Homo sapiens: one gene and its partner. The protein of the gene in region 2 interacts with the protein of the main gene of each other region in a pairwise test. Each region holds a gene or a part of one and is shown on either strand. Other genes may lie near its edges.

Region 1 (3,500 bases), on a different chromosome or scaffold from region 2:
AGGAGACCAACGAAAAGCAAATGGATTCGCACTTCAGAACCTGTGAAACAGTTCAGGAATTGAATGTGCCAGATACCTCTGGAAGGAGGGGTAAGAGGGAGAGCACAGACAAAAAACTTATACCCTCATCTTGTGCAATCACATGATGACCACTGCTCACGCAAGAAGGAAGATATTTAACCTCTGGAAAAACTGGGCCAGAGAGACTCAGGACTGGAGGACAGTAGAAACAAAACAGGATGGAGTAAGAAACTGAAAATGGAATAAATCATATCGAACAGACAAGATTCCTGATTCTCTCCCCTCGTCCAGCTGTCAGAGTATTAGCAGTGCTCTCTCTCTCTCTTGCTTGCACTTGCTCTCTCTCTCTCTCTCTCTCTCCACAAGCCTGGCAGATTCCTCTCAGGAGAAATAGTTAAGTCTAATGAAATGGCCAGGTTCTCACTGAATAATTCTACAATGAAATAAAACTGTCAACAAGCCCAGCCTGTATTCAGAACTTCCAGTCTTTTTAATAGTCCATTCATCATATGTCCATCATAAGAATGGATAGTCAAAGATCACTAGACATTTGAGCAAGGTCAATACCATAAAAGAGAACAATCCTAACCACAAAAAAAGAGAAAAATAGGAAACAGAAACATTTTTCTCAAAATCTTCCAGAATATACAACGAACAAAGAGATGGATAATAGGAGAAATTTGGTTTTAAAAAATTAGAGGATTGGCTGCACGCAGTGGCTCATGCCTGTAATCCCAGCACTTTGGGAGGCCAAGGCAGGCAGATTATGAGGTCAGGAGATCGAGACCATCCTGGTTAACATGGTGAAACCTCATCTCTACTAAAAAAATACAAAAAAATTAGCCAGGTGTGGTGGCGGGCGCCTGTAGTCCCAGCTACTTGGGAGGCTGAGGCAGGAGAATGGCGTGAACCCAGGAGGTGGAGCTTGCAGTGAGCCCAGATTGCCGCACCACTGCACTCCAGCCTGGCAGCCTGGGAGACAGAGTGAGACTCCGTCTAAAAAAAAAAAAAAAAATTAGAGGATCAGATCAATAGACCCAACATTCAAATCAGAGCAGATCTAGAAGAGTCAATAGGGAAAATGAAGAGAGAAGAAATTATAAAAGATATCACATAAGAAAGTTTTCCAGAACTGAATGATTAGAGATTGAGATTTCAATAGCTTATCAAATGTCCTATGTAATGTGGAGGCAGGGAAGGGGAGGATACACAAAGAAATATTATCAAAAATTTCAAATCACTGGGAATAAAAAGAAGGTTTAAAAAGCTTCCAGAAAAAAAAAGAATAAATCACATGTGAAAAATTGGACATCGGAATGAAATTAGACTTCTCAAGAGCAACACTAGAAACTAAAATGTAGTAAAGTATTTACGATTTGGAAAGAAAACTATTTCCAAACTAAAATTTAACCAAACTATGAGCATATGACAGTAACGTAATTACATTTTTAGGCATGCAAAGTTATAAAAGGTTTAGCTCCCAGGTACTAGGAAGCTCCTAGAAGATGTACTCCAACAAAACAAAGGAGCAAAACCAACCACAAGGAAAATGGGGATTGAGCAGCAAGCAGGAGCTCCAACCCAGCAGGCACCAAAAAGGCCATCCCAGCACACCTGCAAGAGAACTGCCAATTCAGAAATGGAGAGGAAGGATAGAGTGCCACAGGAAAGAGGGCTCCCAAAACAAAACAGACTCGATGCTGACTGAATACCTAGTAGCTGTTTTATAGCTTTGTCAGAAAGTTTAGAAGAAGAAAAGATAGTACACACATAAAAAACAAAGGAATGTAAAATCAGACCTTTTGTACAAGAAAAGAAAGATAATCATTTATGGTTTATCTGTGGCAAGTATTTATAAAGTCATATTAATGTAACCAAATCATATTAGGAGGATGGGGGAGAGGAAATGTGGGTAGCAATAGTAGTATAAAAGCAAAATCTTTGTATTTTATAAGATGAAGTCTATAAATAATATCTAAAACCGAAAAGCCTAGAAATATTAGTATAGAATCAACTTAGAAATGTGGTGGTAAATGCCAGAGGAAACAGCTAAATGTGTTGAAAGCTATTGTTGCCTCTGGCAGGCAGCACTCAGGGATAGAGGACATATTTCATTAAAAACTGATTCCTATTATTTGTCCTCTAAAACTATCAACATATATTTCTTTGATAGAAAATAAATATTTAACATTTCTCGTTAAAACTAGCAACTTAGAAACTTTGCCGAAAAGTTACTGGACTATCTGGTATAATGAAATACAAACAGGAAAAAAGAGGTACGTAACTCGAGCAAATAGATCCACACTCTACCCTGCTGTTAAACTCAGTTTTTTAGTATCTTATGACATTTTTAAGTAACAGAATATCTGTAACAAAACTGTAATCATCAACAACAAAACTGGTTCTGAATGATGGTGCTAAAAAAGCTCATGTTCTTGAACAAGTAAGCAATGCTACTGGACTAAATTTTGTGTTCCCCCGACACCCACAAAGTATATTTCTCAGGGGAAGGGGTATACTTACACCTAACCAAAGAAGTATACTCACTTTAAAAAGAAACGGCAACCTGGAATCCTATGAGACACCACCTGCTTCAATTGTAGAGACAATTTGCTTTAAAATTGCTCTATTATTAAAAGGATTTTTTTAAACCCAGTGAACAAACTGGGAACTTGAATTGGAGAAGAATCAAATGTCTGTCACAACATTTTCTTAATCACAAGCAGAATATGATGTATTTGTAGAATTATCAGGTTTTTAAAAAGTATATCACACAAATTAGTATTACAATCTCCCTAATATTTCTATATTCTCCTTTATTCTAGTATTATGACTCAATGTCAATTATAGCTTATTTAGATGAGCATCTGAAATGTATTAGATGATCCTCCTTTTTTATCAAAAACTATAGGAATATACTTGGCTAAGAAAAAATAATTACCTCAGGCTTAGCTACCATCACTCAGCTTTACTCTTTTTATACTCTTGTATTTTTCTTCAACCAAAGGTTTTAAAAATGACACAAAACTTACATTTTAAAAAATCAAAGCAACTATGACAAACAGAAGATAAATATTACTTGATAATATAACTACATAGAAATCAACATTCACAAGGATGAACTGAAAAAAGGGGCAGATAATTGCTCATATGAAACCTATGAAAGCTCATAACAAATTAGAAAGTAAGTAGCAATACTCAGAATCTATGAGGCAAACAGTTGTTATACATTGTCTCCAGACCTTCCTCCTCTGAGTTTTCATAAACTAGTTGAACAATAGGTTGGAAGGTATTGAAAAGGCCCCCTTATCCAATTCTTGGCGCCAGAGCTTTTTATCAAAGAAGCTCTTTGATAACATCTCTGAAAAATGGTCATTTAGCTCTATCAAATAAACACTAGATACAAAGAATACCTTTAGTAATAGAGAGTTTACTAACTGCCAGCCTGGCCTTGTCCATTCTTTTAAGCAACTTGAATT
Region 2 (5,664 bases):
ACCAGGAGGTGGAGGTTGCAGTGAGCCAAGATCGCATCACTGCACTCCAGCCTGGGTGACAGAGCGAGACTGGCTCAAAAAATTAAATTAAATAATAAAAAATAAAAATAAAAATTAGGTACATTCTATGACTTAGAGCAGTTGTATCTGAGGTCAATGGAGACTTGGCTCTTTCTTATGGTGTGCTCCAGTTCATTTAGCTCTCTTCAGCCCATTCTCAACCTCTAGATGCTTTTTAGATAACTCAGTCTCCAGCCCTGATCTCTTTCCCCCAGTCTATTCCTCCAGAGCCTTTGGATATTTCCATTTGGATATCTGCCTATCAGACTGCTGTACATTCAGCAGGCCCATTCATGAGTGCACTCACTTCCTCCTGTGCCAGTCTCTCTGACCCCGTTTATTCACCAGCCTTAAAGCCCAGTGGTTGGCTTTGATATCTTTCTCCCTTGCATCTACTGTTTTCAATCTGACAACAAATGTCTTTGAGTATTTCCTTTGAATGTAAATCATTTTTTTTTTTTGAGGCAGGGTCTCATTCTGTCACCCAAACTGAAGTGCAGTGGTGCAATCACTGCTCACAGCAGCCTCCCGAGCTCAAGTGATCCTCCCACCTCAGCCTCCTGAGTAGCTGGGACTACAGGCATGCCCCACCATGCCCAGCTTTTTTTTTTTTTTTTTCTGTACAGACGAGGTCTCACTTTGTTGCCCAGGCTGGTCTCAAACTCTGGGGTTCAAGCAGTTCCACCTCAGCCTCCCGAAGTGCTGAGATTACAGGCATGAACCACCACACCCAGCCTCCAGACTCCTTTTAAGTTCCATTTATACAGCTCCAAGTTATCTAGTGGCTCTCACCCCAGCTTTCTAATAGAAGATAAGGCAGAAGTGAGAAGGCTCTTCCTTCAAATCTATTTTTTACAACTGATACAGCAATATGAATAAAGTTCACTTAAAATTATAAAACATTAAAGTGAAACTTCTTAAATTAAAGTCCACCAAAGGAAAAAGAACTAAGCTAAAAGTGAGGCTATATGAGACATCTTAGAAATGTCATAGATCAACTTTTCATGGCACAGTGTTCTTCCAAAAGAAATACAGAGATAAGAAATAATATCTGTTCCTGGGGTTTTGCTTATGGAATGACTGAAGGAAAGAGAAACCATGTTTTGAGCCTTTACTATGGGATACTTTTACATTTTAAATATTCATAAAAATGGCACTACTCACCCCATTTTACAAATGAAGAAACAGAGATTCAAAGAGATTAAGCAACTTAGTGGTAAAGAAAATTGGCTGGGCAGGGTGGCTCAACCTGTAATCCCAGCATTTTGGGAGGCTGAGGTGGGCAGATCACTTGAGGCCAGGAGTTTGAAACCAGTCTGGCCAACATAGCAAAACCCCATCTCTACTAAAAAATACAAAAATTAGCCGGGCGTGTTGGCACACACCTGTAGTCCCAGCTACTCAGGAGGTAGAGGTTACAGTGAGCTGAGATCACGCCACAGCACCCCAGCCGGAATAACAGAGCGAGACCCCATCTCAAAAAAAAAAAAAAAAGGAAACAAAATATTTTACCCCCAAAAATAATTATTTGACATACTTCGAGATGGCTATTGAGATGGCCTGCAGAAAGGAAAAACCCTGAAAAGCTGCATGTTGTGGGGGAGAGAAAAGTCTACATTGGTAGAGAAAGTCTACATTGGTGAAATAAATAGGCAGGCTTTCTGAGGTCTCCCCTGCCCAATCTAGGAGATTAACCAAGAGTCTGAAACGTTTGAAGGTCTAACAAAAAAACTTATCATGAACCACTACCTATTATTTTTTTTTTTTTTTTTTTTTTTTTTTTAAGACGGAGTCTCGCTCTGTTGCCCAGGCTGGAGTGCCGTGGTGCAATCTCGGCTCACTGCAAGCTCTGCCTCCCTAGTTCACACCATTCTCCTGCCTCAGCCTCCTGAGTAGCTGGGACTACAGGCACCCGCCACCATGCCCGGCTAATTTTTTGTATTTTTAGTAGAGACGGGGTTTCACCATGTTAGCCAGGATGGTCTCGATCTCCTGACCTCATGATCCGCCCGCCTCAGCCTCCCAAAGTGCTGGGATTACAGGTGTGAGCCACCGCGCCCGGCCGACTACTGCCCATTCTTTCTGAGAGCTTCTACCTGTGAAGTTTCATCTGTATAACAAGAACAGCTTTGCCCCTTATGTTTTTTTTTCCCTCTTATAACTTGTCTTGCCATCTTGCAATCCCCCATTCTTCTGTAACCTCAAGTATAAAAGCATCAAGCATCTGGCCCTTTCTTTCAGTTTTCATATTTTGTATGACTCCCACGCCCATATGCATATTAATAAATGTGTATGCTTTTATCCCATTAATCTGTTATCTGCCTGTTTTATAGACTCAAAGTATCGAATCTTTAGGAGAAAAATTTTTGGTGTTGTGATCAGGATGTAAGTCATTTTGTTCATTCTAGAGCCAATGAATGGGATCTTGGAACAACGGATGAAAAGCCAGCAAAGAAAGGTAAACTCATTTTTTTTTAACCAAGTCAGTTCTCCTCTCCGATCTCTGCCTATAGTGCCTGGTCAAATGTGGATGGTATGAGTCTCTGTGTTTTACCCTTTCTAAATTTGGATCAACAGAGAAAAACATATAAATTAGTTCTTGTATTGGTTTCAATCGCTTTTAAAATAAATGAATGGCTATATTTAAAAGAAAACTTTTTAGAGCTCACATCTTAAATAGCTACCTTATTGGTACCTATGAAAAGATACAAAAGGAATACAGGTTTAGAAACTCCCTCGGCAAGATTTTTGAAAAGTAGAAATCAGATTTAAAACAAAGTTAAAATCCTTTGTACTCAAATTGCATGCTTTAGATTCCTTATGAAATTTGTTAAATTAAAAAAAAAAAAAAAAGACTCCATCCTGTAGTCCAGTGGTAAGGATTCTGCACTTTCACCACTGCAGCCTGGATTCAATTCCCTTTCAGGGAACAAGACCCCAGGAGATGTAAATCCTTTAACTCAGGAAGGAAAAATAAAAGAAATACTTGGAAAAAATTAGTTTGAATTGTTTTGAATTTATATTTGTATGACTTCTTAACCTTTGGGGTACCCATTCATTCTGTAAGCCTCTCATCCAGCTGTTGTTTTCCTCTGTCTTAAACCCTAGAGAATATGGCCAGACAAAAATGTGGGTTGTACCCCATTTGCGGCTGGCAAAACCTTGCTTTCTTTAAGCTGTTGTAGGGAATGATCTGGATTTTGAAAGGGTTGCAACTTTTGCTCCCTCTTAGGAAACCTTGGTTGAAGCCATCAAGAGCTTCTTGGTTTCAGTCTCAAATGTTCTTATTTGTTTTGATTTTGAGTTATTTCCTTTGGTTAAAACGTTGGTTTATATTTAGAGTGTGATAGTAACTTTTTCCCCATTAATCTGCTTCCTCTACGGGGCCAGAGAGACATACCTCCTGCTACAGCTGGGAACCAAACAGGTGAGGAGAGGTGGGTACCCCCTAAAGAGGGGGTGCTGGGAGGGTCTGGGGAAAAAGAAGCATGAAATGCCACAGCTACCATTCTCTCTGCTCCCACAAAAGACTGGGTGCTCAGGCTGGGGACAGTGGTTCACACCTGTAATCCCAGCACTCTGGGAGGCCGAGGCAGGCAGATCACCTGAGGTCAGGAGTTTGAGAGCAACATGGTGAAACCTCTTCTCTACTAAAAATACAAAAATTAGGTGGGTGTGGTGGCACACCCTCGTAGTCCCAGCTACTCGGGATGCTGAGACAGGAGAATTGCTTGAACCCGGGAGGCAGAGGTTGCAGTGAGCCCAGATCGGGCCACTGCACTCTAGCCTGGACGACAGAGCAAGACTACATCTCAAAAAAAAAAAAAAAAAAAAAAAAGACCGGGTGCTCAGAGGACAAAATGTTTGCTGCTTGCATATTTAAAAGGATTTTTTAGGCTGAGGCACGAGAATCGCTTGAACCCAGGAGGCGGAGGTTGCAGTGAGCCAAGATTGCGCTGTTGCACTCCAGCGTGGGCAACAGAGCAAGACTCCATCTCAAAAAAAAAAAAAAAAGTTTTTTTTAAGAAAGATGGCTCTGTGGTCAAAAGCCAGCTTAATTAATAGCTGATATTCTCTGTTCTCTTTCAAATCCTGTTTCTCCCTTGGGAACTTCTTAGTCAACTAGACCTTTTTTTGTTCCTCAGACTCCTACTAACTAAAACTGTATTGGCCTTTTGAAAGCTTAAAATCTCCCCAAATTGGCTCCTCTAAGACTTGTTCTTCCATTTCCTTCCCCTTCTGCCCCTCCTCCTTTTTGCCATTTTTGATACCACATGAAGAGGCCTAGAGGGGACTTCTGTGAACCCTGAGACCCCTTGAGGAACACACACACACACGCATACACAAACACAAAAGCCACCAATCGCCCCTCTTTGGGGGTCCTCTGTCTTCTTTTTTTTTTTTTTTTTTTTTTTTGAGACAGAGTTTCACTCTTGTCACCCAGGCTAGAGTGCAGTGGCGCCATCTCGGCTATTGCAACCTCCACCTCCTGGGTTCAAGTGATTCTCCTGCCTCAGCCTCCTGAGTTGCTGGAATTACAGGTGCCTGCCACCACCCCTGGCTAATTTTCTTGTATTTTTAGAGAAACGGGGTTTCGCCATGTTGGGCAGGCTGGTCTCGAACTCCTGACCTCAGGTGATCCCCCCACCTCAGCCTCCCAAAATGCTGGGATTACAGGCGTGAGCCACCACGCCTGGCCATTGGGGGTCCTCTGTCTTCTCACTGAGCCACAGAAGCCATGGGCAGGGTCCATCCTCTCATGTCTAAAGTTCTGCTCTCCTGCATTAAACTTCCTAATCTCTCTGGCTTTTGGATACTGGTGTGTGCATGTGATATATGTTGTGTCTACATGTATATATATGTTTACACATGAGTTTGTATAGTCTGTAGTACCAAACTGACTTCTAAATAAATGAGTACTCACAAATTAACTATCCCAAATGTTTTTCGAAGTTCATATGACTTTAGTAATCTTTGGTAAATCAAGCTAGGTTTTTTTGTTTGTTTTTGTTTTTTTGAGAACGACTCTCAATCTGTCACCCAGGCTGGAGTGCAGTGGTGCGATCTCAGCTCACTGCAACCTCTGCCTCCTAGGTTCAAGCGATTCTCCCACCTCAGCCTCCATGTGCGCCACCATGCCCGGCTAATTTTTTAGTATTTTCAGTAGGGACAAGGTTTCGCCATGTTGACCAGGCTGGTTTCCAACTCCTGGGCTCAAGTGATCCGCCTGCCTCGGCCTCCCAAAGTGCTGGGATTATAGGTGTGAGCCACTGTGCCCAGCAATAAAGCTAGTTTTAAATTGTTAGTTGGCTGGGTGTGGTGGCTCATGCCTGTAATCCCAGCAGTTTGGGAGTGCTCATGCCTGTAATCCCAGCTCTTTGAGAGGCTAAGGCAGGAGGATCACTTGAGCCTAGGAATTCAAGATTGGCCTGGGCAACATAGGCAGACCCTGTCTCTATAAAAAAATAAAATTTTAGCAGGGTGTGGTGGGGCATGCCTGTTGTTCCAGCTACTCAGGAGGTTGAGGTAGGAGGATTGCTTGAGCCCAGGAATTTGAGGTTGCAGTAGGCTATGATCACATCACTGAGTAGTTTGTTCTTAGAT

The links. Proteins that work in one complex are often made in the same cells at the same time.
Region 1: the proteins of RNF125 (region 2) and UBE2U interact in a two-hybrid assay, tested with the Homo sapiens proteins (one large-scale study listed by BioGRID and IntAct).

What each region holds. Positions count from the first base shown.
Region 1 is NC_000001.11:64,217,123-64,220,622, reverse strand, and holds part of UBE2U (ubiquitin-conjugating enzyme E2 U), read right to left. Parts: intron 2,613-3,500; exon of another isoform or gene 2,570-2,612; coding exon of another isoform or gene 2,569-2,569; intron 1-2,568. UniProt on the Homo sapiens protein: Catalyzes the covalent attachment of ubiquitin to other proteins.
Region 2 is NC_000018.10:32,024,477-32,030,140, reverse strand, and holds part of RNF125 (E3 ubiquitin-protein ligase RNF125), read right to left. Parts: intron 1-5,664. UniProt on the Homo sapiens protein: E3 ubiquitin-protein ligase that mediates ubiquitination and subsequent proteasomal degradation of target proteins, such as RIGI, MAVS/IPS1, IFIH1/MDA5, JAK1 and p53/TP53.